3 separate regions of the Homo sapiens genome follow, and all the other regions are linked to region 2. The links come from fine-mapping of genetic effects on gene expression. A gene starts in region 2. Each other region holds a variant in brackets. All regions are shown on one strand. Distances are from middle to middle. Region 1 has its middle 31 kb from the start of CPAP. Region 2 holds the start of CPAP (centrosome assembly and centriole elongation protein). Region 3 overlaps CPAP (centrosome assembly and centriole elongation protein).

The links. PIP is the estimated chance that this variant, and not a neighbour inherited with it, causes the effect.
Region 1: its variant is fine-mapped to the expression of CPAP in prefrontal cortex (ROSMAP, PIP 0.95).
Region 3: its variant is fine-mapped to the expression of CPAP in fibroblasts (GTEx, PIP above 0.99).

What each region holds. Positions count from the first base shown.
Region 1 is chr13:24,950,142-24,958,329 of GRCh38, forward strand. It overlaps the pseudogene TPTE2P1. Among named protein-coding and RNA genes, the nearest start is that of CPAP, 31 kb to the left of the region's middle. RefSeq lists an enhancer at 6,916-7,495. The variant G/C (reference allele first, on the strand shown) is at 3,946.
Region 2 is chr13:24,919,223-24,927,410 of GRCh38, forward strand. CPAP (centrosome assembly and centriole elongation protein) reads right to left here and starts at 3,639. Exons shown (of 17, transcript NM_018451.5): 1 at 3,539-3,639. RefSeq lists enhancers at 2,783-3,684, 3,685-4,586.
Region 3 is chr13:24,881,355-24,889,542 of GRCh38, forward strand. It overlaps CPAP (centrosome assembly and centriole elongation protein), which reads right to left. Exons shown (of 17, transcript NM_018451.5): 11 at 7,962-8,046; 12 at 4,252-4,316; 13 at 3,922-4,032; 14 at 2,969-3,109; 15 at 2,807-2,891; 16 at 2,609-2,729; 17 at 925-2,015. The coding sequence ends at 1,823. It also overlaps a transcript of RNF17 not described here. Among named protein-coding and RNA genes, the nearest start is that of CPAP, 37 kb to the right of the region's middle. The variant A/G (reference allele first, on the strand shown) is at 4,936.

The DNA of each region.
Region 1 (8,188 bases), 31 kb after region 2:
AATAAAGGTATTTTGAATAAAGTAACACCCACGGACTGGGCGTGGTGGCTCATGCCTTAATACCAGCACTTTGGGAGACTGAGGCAGGCAGATTGCTTGAGTTCAGGAATTTGAGCTCAGCCTGGGCAACAACGGCAAAACCTTGTCTCTACTAAAAATACAAAAAATTAGCCGGGTGTGCTGGCATGCGCCTATAGTCCCAGCTACTCGGGAGGCTGAGGTGGGAGAATCAACTGAGCCTGGGAGGTTGAGGCTGCAGTGAACCAAGATCACACCACTGCACTCCAGTCTTGACAACCAGAGTGAGATGCTGTCTCAAGAAATAAAAAATACAAATAAAAAATTTGTTAAAAAAAAAGTAGCACCCAGCACCAAAGAGGAAATAATGATTTCCTGTAGACATAAGGCTAACCAGTGTTTATAATGAAAAGATAACCTCCCTTCAGAGTCCTCCCAAGCTTAGGTGAATTGTGAGCAGGAGTAGTGAATTTCAAAATAATACACCTAGATTACTCTAAGAACAAATATTTCTTTTGACTTCACTTACAATTTTAAACAAAAGCAGAAGTTACCAAAGATTACTTATCTTCATATTTACCACAATCTTCTTACCCCAACCCCCATGTCTGTGTGTGATTAAAGGAAGCTTGTCAAGTAAGCTACCTAGTTAGTGCTCAGAATGAGAGACTGTGTGTTGGGAGTTGGGGGACTGCTTGTGTGAAACACTTCTCTCTTCTGGATTTAAAACTTAGTCTTTGTTGCCAGTCTGTTAACAGACAGTTTGTAAATGAAGTGGAAGAAAAAATATAAATTAGCTTTCTAATAAATCTGAAATTACAAATGTGAACCAAAGCAGGGAATAAATACTTGACCAAAAATATGTAAGTAAGTGGGGGTTGGGGAATTACAATTTTTAAATATCTCAAGTTTTTGCTATGAAAGTTCTATTTCAAAGTTCTTCAAAATGATGTCTGATGTTCCTGCATACTGTGTTCCAAATTTATGTAAATACAAGATGGAAATTGTGAAGTATGTGCCTTCAAAAAAGAAAAAAAAAACACTGACATTTTATCTATATATATTTAGTAGACTTATGAAGAACATATATAAACATATATAAATATATCATCAAGGAAGATTTAGGATATATGAATATGTGGCAAGGTTGGAAAGAACATAATTCTTTCCCAGAAGGGGAAGGGGGAGCTGTACTTAATCGGATCCAGCTACAACATCACTGGAAGTCATTTCTTACCAAAAAGTATCTCCACGGCAAATTCTGGTGGATAAATTTTCCAAGCTTTTTGTTTATGTGGATTATCCAATTCATTTCTTGGTAGATAAAGCCTAAGAATAGAAAAAAAATTATTACATTTTATATTGGGGCTCACCGAAAAGCCACGCAGTTGGGTACCCACGTTAGAGCTGGAAGAAACAAAAAAAAGAAACTCACCATGAATAGAACCCCAGCTCCTTTTTTGTGTCTCGGTTGGCTCCTTCCACCTTTTTGGTGAGACTTAAAAATACTTTAATCTTCAGCAACACATCAGTAACACATGCTGACTCTCTTAGCATTGCTTTATATGGCATTAATGACTTCCAAGTTTAATAAAATATCTAAATTTCTCTCTGTGACAGAAATCAGTCAGGATAGACATGAATGAAAACCCAGGAATAAAATACTATATCTCTTTCAATTTATGTGTGAAGTTGCAATTTTTTGAATTTTTACAATCAGACCTTGGAAATGACCTTGAGCAGTAGGACATAACTCCCACATGCTGAGCGTTCCAATAATGGAACACTAGGCATAAATTGGTTAACCCATTTATGCCTAGTGTTCTAAATGATACAAGTTAGCATTTTTGGCTAAACAACAATCTTATAACTAACAAAAACAGCTTTACCAAGTTGTATGTAAATGTAAATGTTACAGAAATCTTTAGAAATTTATATAAAAGTAAGAATAAAAGTGATCTAGCTTATCACTTCTCCAAAATGAACATAGTGTTTTAAAGGAAAAAGACTGTATCCTTTAGCAAGAACCACTTTCGAGGAGCAGCATCAAGTGAAGTTACATCCAGGTCTCACTTTTTGAGGGACTTTGCTCATGTTAGAAGAAAAAGCTTATTGTTTGTATGCATCCAAAAAAAAAAAAACTTGTAAAAATTTCCGTCAAATCCAAAGTTCACTCTATCAAAATCCATTAAATGTTTTGCATTGCAAGTGTGTAGACCAGAGGTTTAATTTCCTGTTGCCTTGCTGGACTTAAGGAGTTATTCGATCCAGTTCACATTTGAAGAAAAGATTAGGACTGGATGTAACAATAACTATCAATTCATGCCACATATAATCATAGCCACTTCTTCAATTCTGACCTAAATCATTTAAAAAATATTTTGTCCTTTTGTATTGAAGAGTATGGTTGATACCAAAAAAAAATCCCAATTTTTCACCATCACAAAACAAATGCTACTTATAGTGGAGAACTTCTAGACTGAGAAATGAGTTTCCAAATATGGTAGAAGGTTTTTTTGGAACAATAATCTCCAAACCCAATTAATAATTTTTCAGAAAGGTTTCCCAATTCAGTTATTAGAAAGCCACATTTGAATGGCTATTTAAATAGACTATTACTTAATGATATTTTTTAGCTGTATTCCTTAATACTGTGTCTTGTAACTTCTCCTAGATATAAGTGTGTCAGTCAGCTTTTCATCTAGCTGAAGCCTCCCTAGGTCCTGCCTTACTTTAGCACAAAATTTGGTGGTGGTTCGTCATTGGTAAATCAGCACCTACTGACAGGGACCTGACATACTGAAGGTGCTGAGCAGACTCATATTGAACTTCTCCAAGAGGAATTTACTACCACACTTAAGATCTGATTGTAATACTTTTGAACTCATAACACAGTTCTATGGCATGGACCTTGAGGATACTGCAACAGTGGGTCTCAAGAACAAAGGTATTTTTAAAATAACCAGAGTAAGAGGAGTAAGGCAATGAACAATGGTGGCTCAAGGATTTTTTGCTTTCTATAAATTAAGTTTATGACAACCAGCAAAAGACTTGCCATTATGCCTTGTATATAGACATTGAAGATTAGGCTGTTTCTATGGGTTTATATTATATTCATACCTGTTATTTTGAATAAAAGATGTGTTGAACCAGAAGAAAAATGAACAATTGTCACAGTACTTAGGAAGGTTCTAAAAAAAATTTCAAAGTAAAACTGATACCAAGAACTAATCATTCCAAAGAAATTAAAGTTCCTTCCTTTATTCCTTTTTATATTTATCAAACAATTATAACCATTAAATATGTAGCACTCTGCAATCTATAACAATACACTCAAGACACAAAGGAGGAAGCTTTAAGAAAATGCTATTGCATTCTCTTACTGTTTCTATCAAAATTTTCAAGGAATAGTATTTTTTCCATGATAGGTATTTAATTTAAATGCTGCTATTTGAATCTGGTTTAGATAGTGCCAAACAGACTCTACTAAGGACCTATGCCTATATATACCCAACTAGATTGTAGTGAATTCTTATAATTTTTTTGTTGCCTCAGCATCCCTTTTAAATATAAACTGGACTTTCTGATGTCAGGACTTTTCTGATATCAGAAGCGGGGTTCAGTCACCCTCAGCAGTTTCCAGTTCACCTCCTCCCAGTTTCTCCATGTGACTGATCCTGATATCTGCCTTATACAATCTTCTCCTGGTGACCCCTTCATTATGGGACAGCTAGATATAACCTACTTGACTCACCCAACAGACCCCCATACTCTGCAGGGACCACGTGGATATATTAGTGACCACCTCTCAGCCACAGCAGAGACTCATGGCTGCTTGCGTTAAACCAAATTAGACCTCCCTGCAGGAAACCTACTCAGGTCGCACCTTACATCCCAATAAAGGCTTCCACTCTCAGGTCCCTCCCT[G/C]TCTCTCGCTATTGCTCCCACCCATCAGTCAAGCACAGGTCTCCTGGATGGCTCCCTCTTCCAGTTGCCCCTGCGAAGTGTGCTGCCCTCTTCTCTCTGGAATTAATAAAAAACTGCTTTGGTTATTTCTTGTGTTGTATTGTGCTGCCTTCTCTGTGTTTCACCCAACTGAGTCGCCCAAACCTAACTCTCTTTCCAGTCAGTGCTCCCAGCTACTAAGGAGGCTGAGGTGGGAGGATTGCTTGAGCCCAGGAGGTTGAAGCTACAGTTAGCTATGATCATGCCACTGCACTCCAGCCTGGGTGACAGAGTGAGACCCTGTCTCAACTTCTTAATTTTTTAAAAAAGATGCAAAACAAAATGTAATCATTGCTATGCAGTAAAACGTACCTTTGGGTTTTTTTTTTTTTAGCATCTTGGCTTTTACTTTTTTTGTGTTTATTTTGTATTTTTTGTATTTGAGAATACATGTAAATTTAGAAAAATTTAGAAAATTTACAATTTAGAAAAAAACAAATGAACAAAAATTATTCAAATTACATATTTTCTTTCAAAAAATTTGTTATAGATCTAATTTATTGTTTTCTTCCCCCTCCCCCTCCCTTGTTTGGAATTGTAGTAAAGCAAATCTTAAATAAAATCATTAGACCAGACAAGAACAATGGCAGAGGCTATTTTGTGATTACTCACTGAAGAGAAAAATTGCACTTTCACATCATCATACAGAGGTGGACTGTCATATACATTAGTTAATACACCGGCTGTTTCAATGTCATGCAGTATCTGTGAATGAACACATGGAATTGAGAACTACAAACCTAGATAACGATAACAAAAGGTCCTTTTCACTTATCATGACTTCCTATATTTATCAAGTACTTTTGGTCTCACAGCCCAATCACTACATGCATAAATAATTATTAATAATCTTTTCTAGTTGCAATACTATTGTGTGTGTGTGTGTGTGTGTGTTTTCGTTTGTTTTTTGTTTTTTGAGACAGAGTCTCACTGTCACCCAGGCTGGAGTGCAGTGGCGTGATCTCGGCTCACGGCAACCTCTGTCTCCCAGGTTCAAGTGATTCTTGTGCCTCAGCCTCCCGAGTAGCTGGGACTATAGGCACATGCCATCATACCCAGCTAATTTTTGAATTTTTAGTAGAGATGGGGTTTCACTATATTAGCCAGGCTGGTCTCAAACTCCTGGCTTCAAGTGATCTGCCTGCCTGGGCCTCCCAAAGTGCTGGATTACAGGCATGAGCCACTGCACCCGGCCTGTTGTTTATGTCTTTTAAAGGCCAACATGTTTGAGTGTTATCATGAACCACTTTTCTTTTTTTTTTTTTTTTTTTGAGACAGAGTCTCACTCTGTCACCAGGCTGGAGTGCAGTGGCATGATCTCGGCTCACTACAACTTCCGCCTCCTGGGTTCAATTGATTCTCCAGCCTCCGCCTCCCAAGTAGCTGGGACTACAGGCATGTGCCACCACACCCAACTAATTTTTGTATTTTTAGTAGAGACAGGGTTTCACCATGTTGGCCAGGATGGTCTCGATCTCTTGACCTCGTGATCCACCTGCCTCGGCCTCCCAAAGTGCTGGGATTACAGGCATGAGCCACTGTGCCTGGTCATGAGGCACTTTTCAAAAGTATTGAATTTTCTATTAGACTTTAATCAATTAAATATTATCATTTAATGTGTGTCATTTGATTTTCATGTGTTAGGGCCTTTTTTGAGAATATATTAAGAAGCTCAATTTTAAAGCTAGCATTGACATTCAAAAAGCAATGCGTAACTCATCATGGTTTTTTATTTTCTAAATTTAAAAATAACAACGGGGGTCTGTAACACTTGGGGGTTGGGCCTGCATGCCCCTCCCAAGGGAGAGGGAGGGTGGGGTCCCCCTGCTCATCATGTTTTATCAGAACTCTTGTGTTTGTCAATGGGATCTTTGAACTTGACCAATGCAGGCTGCTGGATGGAGTGACCAAAGATAGCTCAAGATACTATTTCTTTGACTCACTCTCATATAAATAAAGGCACCCACAGTAAGAAAGGTCTATGCTAGGCCCTGTGGAAAACACAAAAGGAGGTGCAGACTCAGTTGGCCCCTTTTGGGAGCTGTACACATAAGAAACAATAGTAGAATGGTACATAACTTAATCTGTATGATAAAGACTGGGTGTGCTGTTATGCACTATTAGGGGCTAGTTAACAGAAGGTACAGAATGCAAAAATTTCATTAAGGAGGTAGAAATTGAATTGGGCATGAAGCAGTTTAGATAAACGAAGAAGAGCTCTGAAAATAGACTCTAGTCCAAACGGAGGGAAAAAGACCAGCAATAATGCAAAGTAGAAATTAGAAAAATGGGCCAGGAATGGTGGCTCATGCCTGTAATCCTAGCACTTTGTGAGGCTGAGGTGGGCAGATCACCTGAGGTCGGGAGTTTGAGACCAGCCTTGAAGGGGTGGCCTGCCCCTCCACACCTGTGGGTGTTTCTCCTTGGGTGGGATGAGAGACTGAGAAAAGAAAGAGACATAGAGACAAAGTATAGAGAAAGAAAAGTGGGCCCAGGGGACCAGCGCTCAGCAAAGGGAGGACTCACGCTGGCACCAGTTTCTGAGTTCCCTCAGTATTTATTGATCATTATCTCTACCATCTCAGAGAGGGGGATGTGGCAGGACAATAGGGTAATAGTGGGGAGAGGGTCAGCAGGAAAACATGTGAACAAATGTCTCTGTATCATAAACAAGGTTAAGAAAAAGGTGTTGTGCTTTGATGTGCACATACACAAACATCTTGGTGCATTAAAGAGCAGTATTGCCACCAGCATGTCTCACCTCCAGCCCTAAGGCAGTTTTCTCCTATCTCAGTAGATGGAATATACGATCGGGTTTTACACTGAGACATTCCATTGCCCAGGGAGGAGCAGGAGACAGATGCCTTCCTCTTATCTCAACTGCAAAGAGGCCTTCCTCTTTCACTAATCCTCCTCAGCACAGACCATTTATGGGTGTCGGGCTGCAGGACGATCAGATCTTTCCCTTCCCAGGAAGCCATATTTCAGACTATCACCTGGGGAGAAACCTTGGACAATACCTGGCTTTCCTAGGCAGAGGTTCCTGCAGCCTTCCTCAGTGTTTTGTGTCCCTGGGTACTTGAGATTAGGGAGTGGTGATGACTTTTAACAAGTATGCTGCCTTCAAGCATTTGTTTAACAAAGCACATCCTGCATAGCCCTAAATCCATTAAACCTTGAGTCAACACAGCACATGTTTCTGCCAGCACAGCATCTCAAGGCAGAAGAATTTTTCTTAGTACAGAACAAAATGGAGTCTCTTATGTCTACTTCTTTCTATGTAGAAACAGTAACAGTCTGATCTCTCTTTCTTTTGCCCACAAGCCTGACCAACACGGAGAAACCCCATCTCCACTAAAAATACAAAATTAGCCAGGCGTGGTAGTGTATGCCTGTAATCCCAGCTACTTGGGAGGCTGAGGCAGGAGAATCGCTTGCACCCAGGAGGCAGAGGTTGTGGTGAGCCGAGATTGTGCCAATGCACTCCAGCCTGGGCAACAAGAGCAAAACTCTGTCTCAAAAAACAAAAAGAAAAGAAAAAAAATTGGAAAAACAACAACAAACAATATCAGGCAGTGTGGCTCATGTTTATAATCCCAGCACATTGCGAGGCTGAGGTGGACAGGTTGCTTGAGCCCAGGAGTCTGAGACCAGCCTGGGCAACATAGCAAGTCCCAGCCTCTTCAAAACATAAAAAAAAATTGGGGGATTGCTTGAGCTCAAGAGGTTGAGGCTACAGTGAGCCATGATCATGCCACTGCGCTACAGCCTGGGTGACAGAATAAGACCCTGGCTCAAGAAAAAAAAAAAAAAAGTAAAGGAAGAAAGGAAGGAAAGAAAGAAATAAGTTATTTGGTTAGTTATAACCAAATAACTAAATTAGAGTTGTGTTCCAAGAGCCAAAAGGGATGACCCAGTTTATTTGGAATGAAGTCTGCTGGTCAAGCTACTGATGGAAAAAAGCTCAGGTATTACATTAGGGCTATTATATCTTCAGAGCTCGAGCCAAAGAAATAAGAAAGAAGTTGTTGAAAAATATGGTGGGGCATTTCCTATGTGAAAAAGAGGCCTGATAATTATCACATATAACACTTATTTAGTGATTTATAGTTCACAAAGAAACTTTATATATATTATCTAATTGAATTCCCATTACACTTGGATG
Region 2 (8,188 bases):
CATAGACCCTTCTATTACCATCCAGGTTCAAAGCCATAAAAAATTACAAGCACTTGTCTTTAGCTTTATCTGAGTAATGCAATGAGAGACTGACCAATCACCAATTTAGGTGTGTTTTATCTCACAGATTATCTAAATTTACAAAGAGATGATATCAATTCAAAGCCTGATACTGAACCTGTGACATGGATATTTTTTAATCTTTTTTTTTTTCCTTGAGACAGGGTCTCACTGTCACCCAGGCTGGAGTGCAGTGGCATGATCACGGCTCAGTGGAGCCTCTACCACCCAGGCCCCAGTGATCCTCCCACCTCAAGCCTCCGGAGTAGCCAGGACCATAGGCATATACCACAACACCCAGCTCATCTTTTAATTTTTTGTAAAGAGTGGTCCCCCTGTGTTGCCCATGCTGGTCTCAAACTCCTGGGCTCAAGCCATTCTCCCACCTTGGCTTCCCAAAGTGCTGGGATTACAGGCGTGAGCCCCTGCGCCCAGTATTTTATGTCTGACAGAAGAATTTTAGCTAGATATGAAAACATTACTTTTTTTCTTTTTTTCTGAGACAGGGTCTCACAATGTCACCCAGGCTGAAGTGCATTGGCACAATCACGGCTCACGGCAGCTTCAACCTCCAGTGCTTAGGTGATCCTCCCATCTCAGCCTCCAGAGTAGCTGGGCCTACAGGTATGTGTCACCATGCCCAGCTTATTTTTTATTTTTTAATTTTTTTGTAGAAACAGGGTGTCCCTATGTTGCCCAGGCTGATCTTGAACTCCTAGGCTCAAGCCATCCTCCTGCTTCGGCCTCCCAAAGTGCTGGTATTACAGGTGTGAGTCACTGCGCCCAGCCTAAAAATCAGTTTCTATCATGACAGATGGTGTCATTCTATAAGGCAAAAAATCTGAATTTAATGGGATTTTACAACAAGAGACTGCTGTTTCCCTCGCTGATTCATTCCCCTGTATAATACACATTGAAAATTCTTGTGTTTGGTTTTCTGAAGCATAATCCACGAATAGTATCATGAATATAGTTGTTACAATTGTTCAGTATGTACAAATGCTATCAACTGCCAGTTTATAGAACTGTTAAAAGACATAGAAGACAGTGAACATAATGATACTGTGTTTTTGCCATCGCTCCCTGGTTGAGTTGTAGAAGAGTTGTATAAAGGCTTACTGTACCATTAATTGCAACTGAAGATTTTCTTGGAACAAGATGATTGCCTGCCAACCATTTAATAACCAAAAACAAAAATGCCAATGTGATGTACATTTTCTCACTGTATCACACTTTGAGAACCACAGCTATTCAGGCATTTAAAAAAACAAAAATTGCTGCCACAGGCAGTAACAAAAATAAATAATGATGTGTGAACATCAGACAAATATGATTCCTTTTTTTTTTTTTTTTTTTGAGATGGAGTCTCACTCTGTTGCCCAGGCTAGAGTGCAGTGGTGTGATCTTGGCTCACTGCAACCTCAGCCTCCCGGGTTCAAGCGATTCACCCACCTCAGCCTCCAGAGTAGCTGGGACTACAAGCATGCACCACCATACCTGGCTTTTTTTTTTTTTTGTATTTTTAGTAGAGACGGGGTTTCACTATGTTAGTCAGGTTGTTCTCAAACTCCTGACCTCAAGTGATCCACCTGGCTTAGCCTCCCAAAATGCTGGGATTACAGGCATGAGCCACCGCACCTGGCCCATGTTTCCATGTATATGAAGCTGAAGAACAGGCAAAATAAACCCATAGTTATAAATGGCATATTGGTCGTTATCCAGGAAAATGGGAGTTGTCCTGTCTGTGTGAAAGTTGATCATACAAATTGAGTCATTCTTATAGCCAACTAAACAATCAAGAAGTCAAGAGGGAAAGGCACTCAGGACACACAACTTTGCTCCAAGAATGGAATTCTCTATAAGTCAGTATGCTGAAACTGCCGGTTGTAACCCGAGACCAATTTGATCTATAGATGCTGAGGTAACTTGCTGCAATTGTAGGACTAATTTTGCCCTCCACCATGGCCCACTCGGTAGGACCTGCTGCCTCCCCAGAACCTTAGGAGAACCAATGAACTTTCTCGAAGAGCGACAGATATAACAATTCTCTTTTTTATAAAACCTCCAGCTTTCTCTTTGTTCTTTGGACATACTGAAGACCACCTGGTCTGTACGCCTGGAACCGCCATTCTTTCTTCCCAAATAAAACGTTAAACTTAAGAGATTCATCTCCAAATTTTTGACTTCAACAACTGGGAAGGTTAATACAGGGGGTGGATACACTTAGGCTGTACACTTAAGATTAGCGCACTTTACTGGATATCTGTTATTCCTGAATAATTTGTAAAAACTTTTTCTAAGCAAATTGTTTTTCAGTAGGAAACCAATCTAAAAAAGTAATGACTTTTTTTTTTTCAAAATCAACCACGTAACTTTGCTTAATTTCAATGACCTTAGCAGAAAATCTTTCGAAATCCAAATTCAGAAGGGAGACAAACTACAAGGTCATTTCATAATATGGAAAACTAGAAAAATTCCCTACTAGACTGACAAGTGCAAGCAGTCTTGGGATGCAGCAGCCAGACTTTTGCATCTCCTCCTCCAACTCCCCACCAAACACACCTTCTATACCTTCAATTTCATGACCGCGATTCTAAAAATATATTTAATGTCAGCATGAAGTATAAAAAAAGCGTCACCAGAACCTGCTACTTATTATTGATACTGAGGTCTTGGTAAAGGGAGCATTGATAATATATATGCCGAGATAGGATTAGTATGTGGACTCAGACTTTACAGATATCAAAATCTGAAGGACACGGGTGCACGTGTATGTCAAACTCATCAAATGGAATGCATTTAAACATGTGCCATTTTTATTGTATAGCAATTATACCTCAATAAAACTTTTAAAAAATGTAACAAACTGACAGCCTTGAAATCTCCAGAAAGTGCTATGTAAACATTCTTTAAAGCAGTATTGAAAAAAAGATAAATTCTCTGCACGGTGAGGGAGGAGAGTGGATACAAACAGCAAATTCAAAGCCACTCTTAGACCGTGAGAAGTAACTAGTTGGTCTGGGAAGTGATTTAGCAGTCCCCTAAAATACAACACGTTCTTGAAAGCCATGAATCCACACGAAGCTTCAAGAGAGAAGCCCTTGACAAAGCTGGGGCAAGACCGGCCCTTAGGACAGCCAGCAACGCTACTTCACCACCCTGCTCCAGCGGACTGCGGCTGCCGCGCTGCCCACAGGAACTCAAGTTCCGCCACAGCCAGGTCAGAGAGACAGACACCCCAGAGAGGCCGGCTTCCCCAGCTCTGCGAAGAACAAAGCAGCGCGAATGAACGAAGCCACTGAACTGCCGTGGGCCTCAGCGCGCCCGTGGGCCTGAGCGCGTCCCGGCGCCCCGCTCCCTCCTCGCCCCGCCGAGCCAACCCCGAGGTCCGAGCAGAGTCCTGCCCGCCCACCGCCGTCCATCTCCGGCGCAGGGCGGCGGACAAAGAGCTCCTCCGCTCTTTTCGCCCACAAATTACCGCTCCGTGAAGCCTGGGCAGCTCAGCAGCACGAACCGACACCTCAATCTCCGCAGCATTTACAAATGGGCCGCCACAATCGCCGCCTCTGTCGGAGCCCCGCCCCCGTCCCGAGGTCCTGTGGGAAGTGAGGATCTCACCCGCGCGTCTGCGCTAAAGCGCAGGCACCGCTGAGCCCAGTGAAACTACAACTCCCAGTGACGCCACAGCGACGGGCGTTGCCCGGCGGGGGATGGACTGCGCGCCGCCTTCCGACCAGCAGCGGGCCAGTGGTCGACGTAGGCGGGCGGCGTGGCGGGGCGGAAAACCGTTTCCGGGAGAGACCTTCCGTGGTGGACGTCGCCCCAGGCTCCCACACTTAGAAAACTAAAGGGAACGCCTAACGGAGCGATGGATCTCCGTGTTCCCAGCAAAGCAGGGAGCACGGAGAGTCAAAGCTAACATAGAGCCCAACCGACGCTTAAAGGAGGTGTTTTGGGTTTTGTTTTTTTTTTTTCTATTTGCGTACGGTCTATTTTGTCGTTTTTTTGGTTTGGTTTGGTTTTTTTCTTTGTTTTCCGCTTTGGCTGAGGTGACTTAGTAAAGGAGAAAAAGGGCAGTCCGCTACACCATTTCGTAAGACGAAAATAACCCTATGAGAATTCACTCCAAAAATAGGCATCTTTCATCTCTCCTCAAATGGCTAATCGGTGGTTTGGCAGAGTGTGTCCATTAGATTCTGAAACTAGTTTGAATACTGACAGTGCAGAATTCAAGAAATTTTTTTGTTTTGTTTCGTTTTAACTGCCACGGCCCTTTAATCTAGGAAGTTACAGCACCGTGAGTTACCACAGTACTACATACCTGGCTTCCATGTCTGATTAAACAGCAGGCCAAGTAAAATGTTTAAAGAAATCAAATGAAGTGCCATTTATAACCGTTATAACTGAAACAAACGACTGCTAAAGACAAAACTATTTCACAGAAATTTGGTCCTCCAAAATTTGTTTTGCTTTCTACTTCAAAAAGAGTCTACTTCTCTAAATCAAGATTTCGGTTTTGCTTCTTTTTTCAATTTTTCTTTTCTTTTTTTAATTTTTATTTTTTGAGATGGAGTCTCGCTCTGTTGCCCAGGCTGGAGTACAATGGCGCGATCTCCGCTCACTGCAAGCTCTGCCTGCCGGGTTCACGCCATTCTCCTGCCTCAGCCTCCCGAGTAGCTGGGATTACAGGCGCCCGCCACCACGCCTGGCTAATTTTTTTATTTTTATTTTTAGTAGAGAAGGGGTTTCACCGTGTTAGCCAGGATGGTCTTGATCTTCTGACCTCGTGATCCGCCCGCCTCGGCCTCCCAAAGTGCTGGAATTACAGGCGTGAGCCACCGCGCCCGGCCCAATTTTTCTTTTTAATTTTCACTGTGGGTGAGGAAGCTAAAGCCCGAGACTTCCGAGATCACACAGCTACTTAAGATGCCAGACAAGGACCCAAACAATCTTCCTTTTCATTTATGATAGCCCTTTGGCTTGAAAGCATGCCCAAAAGTCTCATCATTCTTCCTAAAATGTGTATCTTTAAGGATAGTCGCAATATCCTCTATTTTTGTGCCTATATTTTATTCGTATGTTTTTATTTTAATATAGTATGTAGTGCCACATTGTTTGTTGATTGAATAAATAAATGAATCTTTTACCACACTCAAGTCTTAACTGGCTGTTAAATTAAGGTTATAATGTGTAAGTTTTCACCTGTAGCCCATGTAATTCTCAAAACTGCCCACTAAGCTTCAAGGGTTCAAATCCATTACAAGGTGGAAAGGCTAGTGGGGAGGAACTTCCATCTTCTACTCTGCCAGACAATAAAATGTTCTACCTTATCAGTGGTTCCTATCCTTGTTGCATCTTCAGATGGTGCTGTAGAGAAAAATTAGACTAACGGTTGTGGCACAGGGGTTTTAATGCCAGATTACCCGTTCTGATACAATTCTTTATGCCATCATAGGAGTCAAGAGGGCACTCCTATGTCATGGTTAAGAGTCCAGGATTTATCAGGCAGACCTGGGATCAAATCCTAGCTTGATAACTTACAAACAGCTTTGTAGTCTTCAGCACTCAACTTTTCTGAAACCAGTCTTCTCATCTGCAAAACAGGGGTGGATAATAATGAGACCTTCATAGGACTGTCAAGAAGATTACATTAAAAGAAAGACTATGTATGAAAAAGTAGCAAAAAACCTCCACATAGTAAAAAGTCAATGAACAGGAGGTGTTTTCATCTTTATAAAGAATTTAACTGTTGGTGAACTCTTGTCTACCAAAGCCTAGCTCTGTGGGTCTTGTCAAATGCTGTGCCAGACACAGAATAATACTTATTGTATTCCCAAATTATTTGGAAATAATTCTTTTTCATTATTTATTTTTTTGGAGACAGGGGTCTCACTCTGTTGCCCAGGCTGGTCTCTAACTCGTAGGCTCAAGCAGTCCTCTCACCTTGGCCTCTGAAAGTGCTGGAATTACAGGCATGAGCCACTGTGCTTGGCTGGTAATAATTCTTTTAATCAAAGTTGATCTGAGTGACAAAGAGTTGACAGCTTTTCATTGCTGGTCTGATGGTAGCAAGTGTCCACTCTATCCAGAGAGGACATGTCAGGTGCAGTGGCTCACACCTGTAATCCCAGCACTTTGGGAGACTGAAGCGGATAATTTGAGCCTAGACGTTTGAACGTTAGCCAGGTATGATGGTGTGCACCTGTAGCCCTACATACTTGGGAGGCTGAGGCAGGAGGATCACTTCAGCCCAGGAGTTGAAGGTTATGATCACACCACGAGACTACAGCCAGGGCAACAGAGTGAAACCGCCAACTCTTAAAAAGAAAAAAAGTGGGGGAGGACATCAGGGCTAGCCTGGCCAAGGAATGATTCCTATAGATCAGTCAGAGTGGTGGGAGAAACTATAGGGAAAGGAGCAGACCTTCTGAAAAGTCGGAAGCCTCTGCATAGCCTCCAGGGAGAATAAGCTGAAGGCAGCTGTTTTCTGACCCTGAGGCAGAGGGCAAGGAGTAGGTACCAGGAAGCATAGGGGAATTTATCGTAAATAGGCTTGTTTACTTACATTGACCAGGAGCTGACCTTTGATCATCCACATGCGTGACCCGTTCCCTGAAAGGGGAACAATAATGTTAATTACCCACAGATTGTTTTTGCTCCAGGCTTTCAGCATTATGTCTATACTGAATAAAAGCAAGCAGCTCCAGCTGTTTGCCTGCTCACTCTTTGGCCGCTAGTGCCAAGCAGTCCCCTAGCTGCTCTTACACTGCATATCTGCGTCTGAGTACTCGTTTCATCCATCGTCCAGCCAGGGTCTGTGGGACAGACCCAGCAACTGGTGCCCTGTGTGAGGAATGCTGCAACAGATCACGATGGAACCCCCAAAAATGAGGTGAAGAGACTGTGCGGGAAGTAAGTAATTGGTGCCCACTCAGGATTTCCAAGTTTGAGGGAATTTTCAACCTAGGGTTTCATCATGGGACAACAGTTATCAGCTCAACAGCAACACTATATGTAAGTATTGAAACAGCTGCTTAAAGCTAGCAGAGCCTGGGTCTCGGAGGCTCAGTTAAGGGGCCTAATGCAAACTGTTGTTTTCAATAACCCATGGTTCCCAGAAGAAGGCACGTTAGACCAAGAACTCTGGGAGCAAGTGAGGGGAAATCTTAAATAACATCATGCACAAGGGAAACGGGTCCCAGTAACATCTTTAACGTTATGGGCCTTAATCAGGGCTGCTTTGGCCCCACTCTACACAAAAGAGCCTAAAAAGGAAAGGGAAGAGGAACCATCCACCTACCTGACCGCCTCCTCCTCCCTCAGCCCCACTGTTACTAGGTAAAGGTGCCACAGAGGAGACAGAGTTTCCCTGAGCCCCCTCCTCCAATAAATTGGAAAAAAAGACAAGGGATACACTACAGTTACGGGACCCTGTCTTAGGCAAGTGGCATTAGAAGGGGAGCTCTTGGCCTGCCCTGTGATGCAAGATCAACACGGCAATCAGGTATATGAGCCCATCACTTTCAACACCTATAAAGAGATAAGAAAAAGCATTAGAGAAAACAGAGCTGCTAGCCCATCTACAAAAGGATTAATTGAGGCCATAGCAGACAACTTCCTTATGATCCCATGGGACAGGTCAGTGCTAGCTCAAACAACTTTAGAGGCCAGTCAATACCTCCTCTGGATGGCAGAATATGATGAGTTGTGTGAATGACAAACCAACCAGAATCAATTGGCTGGGTAAAACATATGGGTCACTCAGAAACAGAAAATTGTCGGCACTGGAGAAGTGCACACAGCCAAGCAGAGTGCACGCCCTCTAAAGTCACGATTTGGAGGGAAGAAAAGCAACTATACAACCTCTAATCATGCCCATCCCTGTTCATCTTTGGGAATGGGACCTTATTAGCCCAATGGGGGGGTCACTATGCAGAGCCCTTTCTAATAGTGGCCACTGTTGTAAGTCCTCCCCTACCCCTGACATGGCTGTCTCAAGATCCAATTTGGGTAGAACGGTGACCTTTAAAGGGAGAGAAATTACAACAAACCCATGAATTAATTGAGGAACAATTAAAAGCCAGCCATATAGAACCAGCAGACAGCCCTTGGAATTCACCCATTTTTT
Region 3 (8,188 bases), 38 kb before region 2:
GGTCTCGAACTCCTGACCTCAAGTGATCTGCCAACTTTGGCCTCCCAAAGTGCTGGGATTACAGGTGTGAGCCACCATGCCTGGCCTATCAACCTTTTCCTTTAAGGTTTGTGTTTTTTGTCTCATTTAAAAATCCTTACCTCTCCTGAGATATCTCTAGAATATATCATCTATGTATCTGTAGATATCTATATATAGGTATATTCTAGAGATATCTCAGGAGAGGTAAGGATATATAGATATATCTATCTAGATTACATAGCTATCTATAATCTAGAGATATATCTAGATAGATATATCTAGATAACCTATATATATCTATCTAGATTATAGATATCTATATAGATTATCTAGGTATACAGATATATCTATCTAGATTATCTAGATCACTTGAGGTCAGGAGTTTGAGACCAGCCTGGCCAACATGGTGAAACCCCGTCTCTATATATCTAGATATCTATCTATATAGATACATCTATATAGATATATAGATACATCTATATAGATATATAGATACATCTATATAGATATATAGATACATCTATATAGATATATAGATACATCTATATAGATATATAGATACATCTATATAGATATATAGATACATCTAGATATATAGATACATCTAGATATATAGATACATCTATATAGATATATAGATACATCTATATAGATATATAGATACATCTATATAGATATATAGATACATCTATATAGATATATAGATACATCTATATATATAGATACATCTATATAGATATATAGATACATCTATATAGATAGATACATCTATATAGATAGATACATCTATATAGATAGATACATCTATATAGATATATAGATACATCTATATAGATAGATATAGATACATCTATATAGATAGATATATAGATACATCTATATATAGATACATCTGTACTTATATTCTTCAAAAAGTTTTATTTTTCATATTCAGTTAAGTCACCTGGAATTGATAGATTTCATTAACAAAACCTGATTCATAGTATATGTGACAGGTAAGGTCTATCTAGACCAATCTGTAATTATTTATTATATAAATTTACAAGTAAGTAAGTAAGTGACTTGCCCATCCTTCAGGGACATCTTGCTTCCATGAGGCTACAGTAATCTCACTGTGGTAACATCAGGGTAGCTGTGGTCCATGGGTTAACACTGGCTAGTCATCGTTCATGCCCCCCTCCACTCTCAAGTATCCCATTTTGAGACATTACATTACAAAGTCAGCCTTGTTATAACTGCTTTCTCTTCACCATGATTACTACCTGTTGTGTGTGACCTATTTATATTCATCCACTGTTGTAACTTCCCATTCTGTTATAATAATTAATGATCCTCTGTAGAAGATCAAATGGTCTAATTTTGGTACTAACTGAACATAGTAATATTTTGGCTACAGAGACACGTGTTTACTCCTTGAGTACACCTTCTGTACAAGTCCAGTGCTCTACGGCTGATGTGTCTGTGGGACATCTAGGTGATGTACTTCCTGTACTTCTTGGTTTTTTTTTATAGCCATTTCTAACCAATAAACACACCCACTTACTGTAAAAACCTGTACACAATTTCTAAACAGTCAAAATGCTTTCCTTAGTCTATTGAAAGACAGGGTAGTGAATTATAAATGAGAGCTATCATTGCATTTCAAAGAATATAAAAATGAAGATGCCACAGGGTAAACTTTTATTTTAGAATCTAATCTTTTCCCCACACATACACAATAAATTAAACAGAATCCACAGTAAATGTACATTTTTTAACATAAAAAGTCAGTTACTGTTACTTCATGATCACATGAGGATCGTCACAGCTCCGTGTCCATTAGCACATTACCCTCCTTGTCCTTAACTCTTATCCGACCGGATCTGTACTTCGTTTCTTGATGACCGTTTGCATATACGGTTTTAACAGTGCCATCTGGGTATTCCCGTCTCTTGAACTGGGCAGTATGTAGTTCTCTTTGGCCATTATTAAACTCTATGAGTTTGTTGCCATCACTGTAAAATTTAAAAAAAATATGATTTCTTAAAAAAAAAATAATAGAAAATAAACAACAGAAAAACTACTGAAAAGTAGCCTTTTGAGTCTGGCAGCTACTTCTGGAGACATCCCTTGGTTATCCCTATACAATTGTAACTTTCTACAGTGTTTCTGCTTCATGGTGATAGTTCCAATTATCAGATTAGCATTGTTTTAATCATTCATATTTTCATCACAAAATGCTTAGTAACTTTTTTCAACTTGTGTTCTTCCTTTTGGTTGTTATATTAAAAGGGACCCTTCTTTCACTAATTTAAAAACCATCTGAGTGTTTGTTTGCTCTGTATCAGGTGGGGAAGAGAGTTAGTTATTCCTGGGAAGGGGCATGATCAGACTTAAAAATCTGTTTTGAAAGAATGGAACAAAAAAGGAGAATGTGAAAAATAATTCACATCAAGTTGACTGACATGCCTGTGGGACATTCATTCAAACTGAACCCCCTAATATGGGTGTCACATATCATCAGAAACGCAAGGCTGGGGCACCTTCTGAGCACAGATGAACAGGTGTCACACTGAGTGGTTTTTCTGTGAACATAATGTTGCCATACCGTTGTACTCTGACAATTGTACCATCTGGGAAAATGCTTTCTTCTTGTCCATCAGGAAATAAGTTTTTAACAGTCTGGTCAGGAAACGTGATTTCTTTTCTTCCATCTGGGTAATGTTTTTCTGTTTAAAAAGTTGTTACAGTAAATATTTTTTGAAGGAAGGGAAGAATTTAATGAGAGGGTGGAGCAAGTTTGTACCTATTTGTCCACTTGAGAAATGTAAGACTTCCAGTCCCTCCGGGTATGTCGTGTGAGTGGTCTGGGCAGCTGCATAGTAGTAGATCTGTAAAGACACACAGTCAGTCTGCCTTTTCTCCAGAGATGGTTAAACTATGGAGGAGAACACCTCTGGAAACATACCACTCTTTGGTCTGGCATGACCTGCTTCACGTCACCATTAAAGAAAGTGACAGTGATGGTCTTCCCATCTGCACTCACTTCCTTTCGAGTTCCATTGGGAAACAGTATAACACGGCACCCATTCTTATAAACCTTTTCCACCTAAAAAACCAACACAAGATTATCACCTAAGATTTTCTCCTGACGAAAGTATGGCTAATTCTCCTCCCAACTGCCTACTTTGAAATTTTTTGTAATAAAATGTAAAACATTCCCTCAAAAGATCCTTTATTTCGTGAGGAGTAGCAAACTCGTGATTTTCTAATTTTCTCATTCCTTTTCCATGTATTAGCTGGAATTTACCTAAAAAAGAAAACCTTCCCTTATCAACAATTTGTTACCCTAAAGTAGACTTTGTACAGGAAAGTCTAACTACTGCTTTGCCTGTTGTTCTTTGTCCTTCTCTCATTCCTCAAGGATAGCACTCCAACCCTATAATTTCAATAGAAATGGACCAGATTAGGTATTCGAAAAGTAAATTTTCCATAAACCTGAGGAAAAAATTCCCTCATCACCTCTAACCTGTATATATCCCTTTCTTCCTCATTCCCTTTAGCTGGAACCCCCAGGCAGTTTTCCCACTAAGAAACTTTCCTAAGCATAAGAATAAAACTGTGCTAGCTGGAGATGAGGAGAGAGGTCCCTGACTCAGGATCAGTATAAGAAAGGCTGCAAGAAAGGAAGACCTAGAATGAACAGAAGCTTTTAAGAAGTGCCAAGGATTACAAAGGCTTTGGAGTAAGAACAAAGATCATACAGAGATTGTATGCCGCCTTTTGCTGAATCTCTGAACGAGAAATGGCAACTAAAGGCATCTTGTCCAAAGAGCCCTTATTTTAGATTCTATGTGTTTCAACTATTTTAACCCATGTTTATTTTTTATAGAATTCATTATTTCAAAAACATTTTTTAACCTTTCCATCAGGATGACTGATTTCTCCCTGTATGTCTTGGTCTTCCTCCTCCTCTTTATATTCAGGATCTGGGAAGTTCAGTGGTTCAAGTGGCTCCCTGGGAGAGGCAGCCTGTAAGCACAACACATTTCAAGCAGCTAAAACCTACTCTTACTTCCAAAGCCAGATTCTGATATAGGGTTCTAGGACTAGTGTTTACAAAATATAACATTTATAATGTTAAGTAAAAACTCTTTTTTACACGTGGTTTAGAAACGTTAAGTCTATTAACAAATTGATTTCAAGCCTAAGTAATGTATGTTTGAAGAATATATAAAAACAGAGATTTACTTGTCCCTTATCCAAATTGCCTAAATCACGAGGAGGTGCAGACTTGGATCTTCGAGGTGGATTGCCTATTAGAATAAAATTGTCAAGAGTTAGATTTAATATTTAATTGAAAATTTTATTAGTATGATCACACATTTCCTTAGTTCATATCCTGTGAACTGCTGTCCTTTATCCATTAGTTAAGGATGTCTTAATATTTTTCTTTACTAATTTGTAGTTCTCCGACACAGGTACTTAAGTCCTAGATGTCCAAGAAAGACAGTATCTTGTCTCAGAGTTTACAATCCTGGGGAAGAGACAGGTGATGAAACAGCCTGACAGACCCAAATGTATTTCAGAGACAATCACAAGGTGTAAGGTGCAGATAAAAGAGGCATCTAAGACCTGTGGAATTTGGCTTCACCAAATAACTGGGTATTTAGTTAAAACATAAATGCCCTTGTGGCTATGGTATAAACTTTTTGTAATATGTCCAGCACACCAATCACATACTGTACCAGCAACATATACATTACAAAATAAACACGCCCCCACCAACAACAAAGTGAGGTGAATCTCTCTCTAAAAATACACTGAAGTGCCAGTATTTTCATCCTATGTGCCAATGGATCATATTGTAAACACTCAACTTGGAAGGGTCTCGAGCAAGTGCCAGAATCTGACCTCCATGTTAAAAAGTGTAAC[A/G]GAGCTGGATGTTACGGGAGAATGGCCTGAAGGAGGAGAGCGGAGGCAGGTGGTCAGCCAACAAGCTGCTGGGCGTGTGAGGCGGCTGTGCTGTGCCTGTGAGACAGGAATGGTTCCATTACACCATGGGAAATCACTGATTTATAGGTCCCAAACTGCCACACATCAGCAATTTCATATGATTCAATGTAACTAATAGATCCAGAAAATAACATCAGAGGGATCAGTCTAGGGACTACTGGGAGTGGATGGTGAAGGATAACAGAAAAAGTACTGGGAGTACACAGGGGTTTAGGCTTGAGCAAAGGGGCAGATGGCAGACAAGGCTCTGGGGATAGCAGGAGTGCTCTGTTTGGGATGACACAAGAATGTCATGCTTCACCCCCACAGGTTATGTGTGCAAACTAAACTATAACTAAAGCTGTGTGACATCATTTCTCATAACCACCTTTAGAGAAAAGACTAGAATATTATTCCCATTTTATGGCAAGAAAACCAAGGCTAAGTGGTTAAATAACCTACTAAGGTTGTCAACTAATAAAAGGCAGAACCAGGATTCAAACCCACTATATATCAAGTTTAATTCTTCCCAGGCTGATTATGAACTAACATTAACTTGAACCCCCAAAGTATCTACCAACTGGGCAGGATAACGAGAGGTGACCGTGGGCATAGACAGGCTCCAGGTGCAAGCACACTGTCTAGAGGACTGTGTGAACCCACCTTAAAAATACCTACAACAGGAAAACTGGGGACAGTGGAAGCTAGGGAATACACAGTGCTGGAATAGCTGGGTAGATACTAGGGGAGGGATGTTTATGACCCCAAGATAGGGAAAGAATTAAGAAGCACTGCCCAAAGGGAAAAACTGAAATTGAACTACTTTAAGAATTTAGGTTCATCAAAAGATACTATAAAGAGCAAAAAGACAAGCCATGAACTAGGAGAAGATACTGATTTGCAATTTATGTAGATTATAAGTATACCACTTATACCAGGGGGCCCCAAACCCCACGGTATACTGGTCTGTGGCCTGTAGGAACTGGGCCACACAGCAGGAGATGAGCAGCGGGTGGGCGAGCCAGCGAAGCTTCATCTGTATTTACAGCAGCTCCCCATCACTCGCATTACCACCTGAGCTCCACCTCCTGTCAGATCAGCAGTGGCATTAGATTCTCATAGGAGCAAGAACCCTATTGTGAACTGCATATGCGAGGGATCCAGGTTGCACGCTCCTTAGAGTATCTAATGCCTGATGATCTGTCACTGTCTCCCATCACCCCCAGATGGGACCATCTAATTGCAGGAAAACAAGCTCAGGGCTCCCCCTGATTCTACATTATGGTGAGTTGTATAATTATTTCATTATACATTACAATGTAATAATATTAGAATTAAAGTGCACAATAAATTTAATGTGGTGCTGAATCATCCCAAAGCCATGCCCCTTACCCCAGTCCATGGAAAAATTGTCTTCCACAAAATTGGTCCCTGATGCCAAAAAGGTTGGGGACTGCTAAGGTATACTACCAAAGTGAGCACATGCTGTTGGAAAAATGGCACCAACAGACTTGCTCAGTGCAGAGTTGCTGCAAGTCTTCTGTCTCCAAAAACCACAGTTTGTGTGAGGCGCAGTAAAGCAGAGCATGAGAAAATGAGAGTGCCATCAAGAAAAGCCACGGGCTCCACAGAGGGCAGTTCCGGGCTGCCACTCATCTATGTCTTTACGTAGGTGGTGGTAACCCGAGTATTTGCTTTCTAATTGTCAAACTGCATATATCTTTACTAAATTTATTTCACAAAAATAATTTTTTAAAATTCCAGATTAAAAACTCAAGATGTGAATGCAAAAGCGCATAGAAGAAAATGGTGTACTTGTGGCCTGAGGATTGAGAAGAATTAAAGTCATGAAAACCAAAAACTATTTTAAAAGACTAGTAAATTCAACATTACAAGGAAAAACATACATTAAAAAAAACACAAACTGAAAAGCCAAACCCAGATTGGGAGAAAATATTAGCAGTGCTTGTAACTGACAAAGGATTACTATGCGGAATATTTTATAAGGAGAAACACACACACACACATCCAAAATTTTAAATGGACAAAGGAAATGAACAGGCAGTTCACAAAAGGGGAACCTCAAATGCTGACTAAATGTAAGAAAACATGCTCACAGGGCCTTACCAGCTCACGGAATCAACCACCATTTTACATCAACTGGCCAAAATGTTAAAGTCTGGCCAGATCAAGTGTTTGCAAGTATGAAGAGCATACTCTGCTGACAGTAAAAAAAACTGGTACAACCATGTTGCAGAGCAAAGGGAAAACCTCCAGCTGACATGGCCTGGCATCTTACTCTTCATATATATCCTAGAGAAGCCACAGGATCAAGACACGCTCTGCAGCCCTATTCATTATCATGCAAACCTAATTGCCCATCACCAGGAATGCTGAACTGTGGAAGTATACAATGCAATCTACATAGCTATTAAAATCAATCAACTGGAGGTTTTATGTGTTAAGATTGGTAAGTCATACAGTATTGAAAGAAAAAAATTGCAGAAGGACACACAGAATATGAAACAATACTACAGGGTGAGTGTCCCTTATCAGAAATGCTTGGGAGCAGTATTGCAGATCTCCATTTTTTTTTCAAGTTTTGGAATATTTGCAAATACTTATTGGTTGAGCATCCTTAATCCACATTCAAAATGCTCCAATGAATGTTTCCTTTGAGCATCATGCTTGCCCTCAAAAAGTTTCAGATTTGGGATGCTCGACCAGTATAACAATTTATGAACGCAACAAGGTAAAATAATTTAAAACCGAAGCATGGACCATTATCAGGGTAGAAATTAACTGGCGGAATAAGATGATGCACAGGAGCTTCAATTACATTTATTAATTCAAATTCATTCAAATGTTCAAAAACATTTATTAAGAAATGTTTTATTAAGTTGGGTATAAATTGTTTATTCCTTACATTCTGAAATGTTTTATAAAAAGATCATGCAGCCTCTTACCTTGCATTGGAAGATAATTTTTCTTGTATTTTTCTACCTGGGTTCCTGAAGAAATCTGACTGTTTTGAAATCGAACAGATGTGTTCTATAGTATAAGAGATAATTTTTTATTTAAAATGAGTGTTAGTCTATTAATACACTAAGTGAAACTAATAAAACTCAGCTAGTGCTAAGAATGCTGTGGGTTTTGTTTATTCATATTGTTTTCATTTATACAACAGGCCAAA